Linked DNA regions of Homo sapiens. The protein of the gene in region 2 purifies or fractionates together with the protein of the main gene of each other region. This does not show direct contact. Each region holds a gene or a part of one and is shown on either strand. Other genes may lie near its edges.

The links.
Region 1: the proteins of ELMOD3 (region 2) and DDI2 purify together in Homo sapiens (affinity purification with mass spectrometry; one large-scale study listed by BioGRID and IntAct). This does not show direct contact.

Annotation. Positions count from the first base shown.
Region 1 is NC_000001.11:15,623,664-15,627,484, reverse strand, and holds part of DDI2 (protein DDI1 homolog 2), read right to left. Parts: intron 817-3,821; coding exon 687-816; intron 1-686. UniProt on the Homo sapiens protein: Aspartic protease that mediates the cleavage of NFE2L1/NRF1 at 'Leu-104', thereby promoting release of NFE2L1/NRF1 from the endoplasmic reticulum membrane.
Region 2 is NC_000002.12:85,357,522-85,361,342, reverse strand, and holds part of ELMOD3 (ELMO domain-containing protein 3), read right to left. Parts: intron 1-3,821. UniProt on the Homo sapiens protein: Acts as a GTPase-activating protein (GAP) for ARL2 with low specific activity.

The DNA.
Region 1 (3,821 bases), on a different chromosome or scaffold from region 2:
TCAAAGATAGATAAACGTTTCTTTGTATGTGATTAACACAGCTGGTAGGAAAGAACCACAACTTGGTGGTCAAGCTGCTTAATGTTTATCAAGTTCAGCATAATGGAAAAAGCATCAAATTTTAATTCCTGTGCCCTCACTTAATAGCTATGTAACTTTAAAGACACCATTTAAAATCTGAGCTTCATAATTATAAATTATTATGCAAATTAGTATGTAAATCCCCCCACAACCAAGTTATGAGATCATGTGAAATGCAGCTCCAAGTGCCTGGCTGGCTATAAAATGCTCCAGAAAGGCTGGCCACTGAAGGACAGACACAAAGTAGCAAAATCATAGGCTTATGTATTCTTTCAAGTCCTTCCCAAGGATAAAGATTATTGTATAATTATCACTGATAACAGAAGCTAACATTTATTGAGGGCTTGCTGTGTGCTAAGATTTTACATGCATTAGCCTCACGTCAGCTTTAGGAGTTGGGGTTAATTATGGCACCTAACTTATAGAAGAGGAAACCAATTTAGAGACATTAAAATACTTGTTCAAGGTTACACGGCAGGGAAAAGGCAGAGTCAGGATCTGTATTCTGTAGTCTGAATCCAAAGCGAATCCAAAACTCTGAGGTGCTATGCTCTGCTACCTGCTGATGGTTCTGCTGGGGGATGCTCAACCACCAGATGTCTTACTTGGGAACTGCACTGGAGGTCGAGGGTCTGCATTCTCCTTCTGTCGTAAAATCACAACGTCCCCATCTTTCAAGCCATAAGAAGCCAATGATCTGTGGTTGTCTGTGAGAGGTCTTTCCGCATAGACGATCTACAACAAGAAAAGATATACAACAGTATAAAGCACTGAGAAGTAACACAGCGCAAGGCAGAAGGACCAGTTTTCCCCTGAATCAGATGTCACCCTCCTTTCAAACCCTCCAGTGGATTCCCACCACATCCAGAACAAAACCCACAGTCCTTCCCGTCACCTAGCAGGACCAAACAATGTGGTCCCTGGCTCTCCTGACTTCGCCTTTCACTATGACTGCTGTTCCTCAAACAACAGGGATCAACTTCCCCTTCAGGGCTGTTTCTCTTGTTTTCTCTACCTGAGGAATGTTCTTTTTCCACTCATTTTTTTCCTTTTACGTCTCTGATCAAACATTACTCTTTAGAGTTCTTCCCTACTATGTTATTTAAAATGTACTCTCAACTAACACAATATATATTTACTTATTGTCCTTCTGCCCCATTAAATGTAAACTACTTGAGGACAAAGACTTTGTTTCATTCACGAGATCATAAATGCTTAGAACAGGGCCTGTTATATAACTGATGCTCAAATATTTGTTGAACTAAAGAATGAATGAATTTATGGAAATGGATATAATTTTAGATTTAATTTTTAGCAGGGAGGAAAAGGGAATGATTTATTCTGGGTATGCTAACTAACTACAGTACTATTAAATAAAGTGTGCACTTTGAAATAATCTTGAACACTGGCAAAAGGGTCCCAAATATCATCCTTCCTGCACTGCAATCTTCCTTCTCTTCTACCACCCCCAAAGTTTTATCACTCTGGGCCGGGCACGCTGGCTCACGCCTGTAATTCCAGCACTTTGGGAGGCCAAGGCGGGTGGATCACGAGGTCAGGGGTTCGAGACCAGCCTGGCCAACATGGTGAAACTCCGTCTCTACTAAAAATACAAAAATTAGCCCAGTGTCGTGGCACGTGCCTGTAATCCCAGCTACTCCAGAGGCTGTGGCAGGAGAATTGCTTAAACCCGGGAGGCAAAGGTTGCAGGGCTGAGATCGCACCACTGCACCCTAGCCTGGGCAAGCAAGATTCCATCTTGGTGGGGTGGTGGGAGGGGGGAGACTGGAAAATAAAGTGAAACTAAGAAAATAACAACTAAATACAAGTGGAAAAAAGAATTAGGAATGTACTACTAATAAAAATATTTTATGATGTGTAATCAAACTGAAAAAAACCTGACAGCACAAATAGATGAAATAATGTGTTGCAGATAGAAAGAACAAAGGTACACTATAATTTTATCATGAAAAAACATAAAATCTGCCCTGCATTATTACATACTCCAGAAAGGCATTCAGAACAAACTCAGGCTTTGAAAGGTTTTCCTCCTAATGATTTTTCACCAGGCCACATGCGAACTGAGGAACATGAGTTCTATCCTTGCCAGTAACTCCCTGCGAGGGGCATGACACTCAGCAGGTCCAGACCTCACCCTTCCCATGTGTCAAGCAAGCAGGTGGGCTAGATCATCATTACAGCTGTCCCTTCCAGTTCTCTCTGCTAACATTATCATTCTATGTTTCCTTACAGCTTTCATAGTAAGGTTACCTGAAATAAAAACTGAAAACACAGCATTTAAACTGGAAAAAAAGTGATTATGCCATATCTGCTCTCAGAATTTATAGACATGAGGAACAGAACAGGAAAATGAGTTCCTACCAAAATCAAATTCTTCTGAATATGAGCAAATTTGTAGGCCCAATTATACAAGTTTTATGCATGACTTGAAAAAAAATACTATTAAGTCCTTAATGCTCAACTCGCTGAGTTAAAACACATTTCAGATCTGGTATGATGGCTCATGCCTATAATCCTAGCACTTGGGGAGGCTGAGGTGTGAGCATCACTTAACCCATTTAGGCCAGAGGTTGCAAATTTTCTTTTGTGAAAAAATCATACCTTGGCAATGACCTTGAGTAGTAGGATATAACTCCCACAAGCTTAGCGTTCCATTGGAAGGCTAAGCACAAATGGGTTAAGCCCTGGAGTTTGAGACCAGCCTGGGCAACATAGTGAGACCGCATATCTAAAAAAAAAAAATTTTAAATAGCCAGCCATGGTAGCATGTGACTGTAGTCTCAGCTACTTAGGAGTCTGAGGCAGGAGGATTGCTTGAGCCCAGGAGGTCCAGGCTGTAGTGAGCTGCGGTTGCACCACTGCACTCCAGCCTGGGGCAACAGAGTAAGACCCTGTCTCTTAAAAAACAAAAACAAACAAAAAAAGAACCACATTTCAACAGACTGCAACTGTCACTCCCATCATCCCATTCACACACCCTCATTTAAACACAAATTTCACAGTAAAAGTACATCACCATCAACACAGAATTTCAGCAAAACAACTGAGAGTCATATTATAACTTGTGAGACTGCTTGGAAAAAACACATAAACCAGAAGTGATGAGCGTCACAGGTTGAGGTGTGCAACAAGAAAAAAGAGGTATGTCAAGAGAAATGGCAGGTAGGCAGGCTCTTACAGCATAGCATCAACACTGTGAAGCCACTGTCAACAACCTACTCTTTAATTTTCCAGTTTCAGAAATTCAACTATCAGTATATTTAGAGATACATGAACAGTCTCCTGGGAGCAGAGGCACATTTTAACGGTATTTATTTATTTATTTATTTTGAGACGGAGTCTCGCTCTCGCCCAGGCTGGGGTGCAGTGGCGGGATCTCGGCTCACTGTAAGCTCCGCCTCCCAGGTTCTCCTGCTTCAGCCTCCTGAGTAGCTGGGACTACAGGCACCTGCCCCCACAAGCGGCTAATTTTTTTTTTGTATTTTTTGTAGAGACGGGGTTTCACCATGTTAGCCAGGATGGTCTCGATCTCCTAACCTTGTGATCTGCCCGCCTTGGCCTCCTAAAGTGCTGGGATTACAGACGTGAGTCACTGCGCCCGGCCACTAACTATTTATAAGAGAAAATTTATTTATTTACAAGGAGGAAGCAAACTCAGGAGAATCAAAATGATCCTATGCAGGCTGGGTGCCATGGCTCACGCCTTAATTCCAAAACTT
Region 2 (3,821 bases):
TCTCAAAAATTTTATACCGATTTCCTGGCTCTTTGAAAGTCTGAGGGTTCTGAGTGAGCGAAGTTTAGTGAAGCAGTTTCCTATGGCCTTTCTGCTCAGCCAAACCTATCCCCTGCTACAGATGAAAAACAAAAAACCGACCAAAATACTCGGCCAATTGTTTGTAACTCATTTCACAGATACAGAGCTAATTTTTCAACGTGTTCTTTTAAAATCCTAAAAATCACCAGGTGTGGTGGCTCACAGCTACAATCCCAGCACTTTGGGAAGCTGAGGCAGGAGGATTGCTTGAGCCCAGGAGTTCGAGAGCAGCCTGGGCAACATGCGGAGACCCTGTCTCTACTGTTTAAAAAATAAAAAATCATCATTTCTATAGTTTGTTACTAGAGAAGTTTCTCTGAACATATAGAGCACCAAGAAGTATCATGTATCTAAAAAAACCATATGGCACCATTGAAAAGAAGCCCAGAATATTCCCAGATGATACAATTCTGGAGAATGGAGAAGTAATTCTACCAGTGAAAGAATTTCCTGATCAACATCATTAAAGATTATGTAAAAATGTAAAGGGCTTATGAGCCTAAGTTTGTTCCTATGTTACCATATTCACTGAATTTTCTGGAAAAGTAACTTTAATAAAGTTTAATCTCAGAGAAAAAAAAAATCATTAAGGCAAAAAAGAAAAACCAGCCGGGTGTGGTAGCCCACGCCTGTAATCCCAGCACTTTGGGAGACCAAGGCAGGAGGATCTCTTGAGGTCAGGAGTTCAAGACTAGCCTGGCCAACATGGTGAAACCCAATGTCTACTAAAAAGTACAAAAATTAGCCGGATGTAGTGGCACATGCCTGTAATCTCAGCTACTCAGGTGGCTGAGGCACGAGAATGGCTTCAACCTGGGAGGTGGAAGTTGCAGCGAGCTGAGATTACGCCACCGCACTCCAGCCTGGGCAACAGAGTGAGACTCCATCTCAAAAAAAAAAAAGAAAAACCAACCCAGTGGAAACATTAGAAAAAGGATATAGATGGTTTACACAAAAGGTAACTGAAATGGTGGCTTTTTTTTTTTTTTTTTTTTGAGATGGAGTTTTGCTCTTGTTGCCCAGGCTGGAGTGCAATGGTGCAATCTCGGCTCACCTCAACCTATGCCTCCCAGGTTCAAGTGATTCTCCTGCCTCAGACTCCTGAGTAGCTGGGATTACAGGCATGCGCCACCACGCCCTGCTAATTTTTAGTAGAGTATTTTTAGTAGAGACGGGGTTTCTCCATGTGGGTTTTTTTGAGATAGAGTCTCGCGCTGTTGCCCCACTTGGGGCATAGTGGCACGATCATGGCTCACTCACTTCTTGGCTCAAGGGATTCTCCCACCTCAGCATTCCAAGCAGCTGGGACCACAGGTGCACACCACCATGCCCATGTAGCCATGGGGTCTACATATGGTTGCCCAGGCTGGTCTCAAATTCCTGGGCTCAAGCCACCTTGACATCCCAAAGTGCTGGGATTACAGACACGAGCCATCCTGCACAATCACAAATTGGTTTTAAACATATGAACAAATGTTCAACCTCACTCATTAAAACAAAACAAAACAAAAAAAAGCAAAACAGAAAAACGTCACCAGGCACCGTGGCTCACACCTGTAATCTCAGCACTTTGGGAGGCTGTGGTGGGTGGATCACCTGAGGTCTGGAGTTCAAGACCAGCCTGGCCAACATGGTGAAACCCTGTTTCTACTAAAAATACAAAAAAGTATTTTTTTTGTATTTTTAGCACACCGGGCGTGGTGGTGCACACCTGTGATCCCAGCTACTCGAAAGGCTGAGGCAGGAGAATCATTTGAACCTGGGAGGCGGAGGGTGCAGTGAGCCGAGATCGCGTCATTGCACTCCAGCCTGGGCAACAGAGCAAGACTCCATCTCAAAAAAAAAAAAAAAAAAAAGAGTCATGTAAAACTACTGTGTTTCATTAGTCAGATTATCAAAGATCAAAAAGTCTGATAACATGTACATTGGCCAGAGTGCATAACACACTGGAGAGTAAACTGTTACCACCTCTACAGCTTGATAGTACCTAATGAAATCATACATGTTTTGTACATGCGGGGCCTGATACTGCATTCTAGTAATTTATCTAACAGATATATTCATCCATGTGCAAAACCGACATGTTTACATTTATAGTGTGATTCTTTGTCATACTGTTTATAATAGGGAAAGGCTGGAAAAACCTAAATGTTCATTAATGGGCTGATTTACATAAATAAAAGCACATTCACTCAGTGAGATACTATATGGCCATAAAGACAAATGAGAAAGTGCTTTACTTTACAGGCAATATGGGACAATTTCCGTGATGTATTAAGTGAAAAAGCAAAGGACAGAGTCTATACACTATTTTACCATTTTATTTTTTAAAAGTACATAAGCACATTTGCTTGTCTCTGCAGAGACCATTTTCACAGTTATACCCAAGGAAGCAGTAGCTTTGTCTCCAGCAGAAAAACTGAGTGGCTGGGGGGACAAGGGTGGAAGGTGGTTTCTTCACAATACATATATCGTTCTGTACTTTTTGCATTTTGAACCATGTGAATGTATTATGCCAAGGCCCTGGAATCCCAGATCATCCTGTTACTCTAATCCTTCTGCTTTTTTTTTTTGCCTTTCCAACTAATGCTCATTAAACACAACTTTCATTTCTTCATGTTCCAGATGCAAGGATGGAGGCCAAAACACCTCACAGCTGACCAAGCTCCCTGGTAAAGGAGCTCATGATGGCTAAGCATTTATTTCCCACTGTAATGCAATCAACACACCTGCTGCAGATCCCTCTCCTCACTTCCATCCCTTTGTTCATGTAGTTTTCCTCCAGAATACACCTCCACTCTCTTCTCTGATCAAGGTCAGTTCCACCTACTCAAGGCAACCTACCTTACTAGCTGGGGCTACAATGCTGTCTCACACCTCTAAGTCCAGTAACCCTTGTATGCAGCAAAAGTTCCTCTGCAAAAGGCCTGCATAAGGACCTTCTCTTATATTTCTTTTTTCATTTTTTTTTTTTTTTTTTTTGGAGACAGAGTCTCACTTGGTCACCCAGGCTGGAGTGCAATGGTGTGATCCCAGCTCACTGCAACCTCCGCCTCCTGGGTTCAAGCGATTCTCTTGCCTCAGCTTCCTGAGTAGCTGGGATTACAGGCATGCACCACCATGCCCAGATAATTTTGTATTTTTAGTAAAGACAGGGTTTCATCATGTTAGCCAGGCTGGTCTCCAACTCCCGACCTCAAGTGATCTGCCCACCTCAGCCTCCCAAAGTGTTGGGATTACAGGCGTGAGCCACTGCCTCCAGGCTCTTATATTTCTTTTATATGTTTCACAACCATTGGCACAGTACTAAGCACAAAATATATTTCTCAAATTTTTGTTGAAATTTTATCTCTAAAATATTTGGTGATTCATTGTGCTGAACAACTTCCTGCAGGCATCTGTGTACCTGAGATTCATTTCATCCTTCCTTTCCTTCTCCAATTCAGTCCCCTCCAGTGTCCAAAGACTTCCCTCTTTGGAACAGTTCGCATATTACTACAGTGAAGAAAATCTTTCTGGAGACCCAAAGCAAAGGCTTTGTCCCAGTCTGGCCACTGAATCCCACAGCCTCCATTTAAGACCATTTTTGGGTGGGCAAAGTAGTGTGAAAGGTAAGGCATGTAGGGTTAGCTGCCCGGCTCATACAAAGACATATCACATTGAACTGAGTCCTGAGGATGATCAGGCCAAAGCAAGCGTTTCACAGGGAAGAGGCTAGTAAGGTAATGATCCAAATCAAT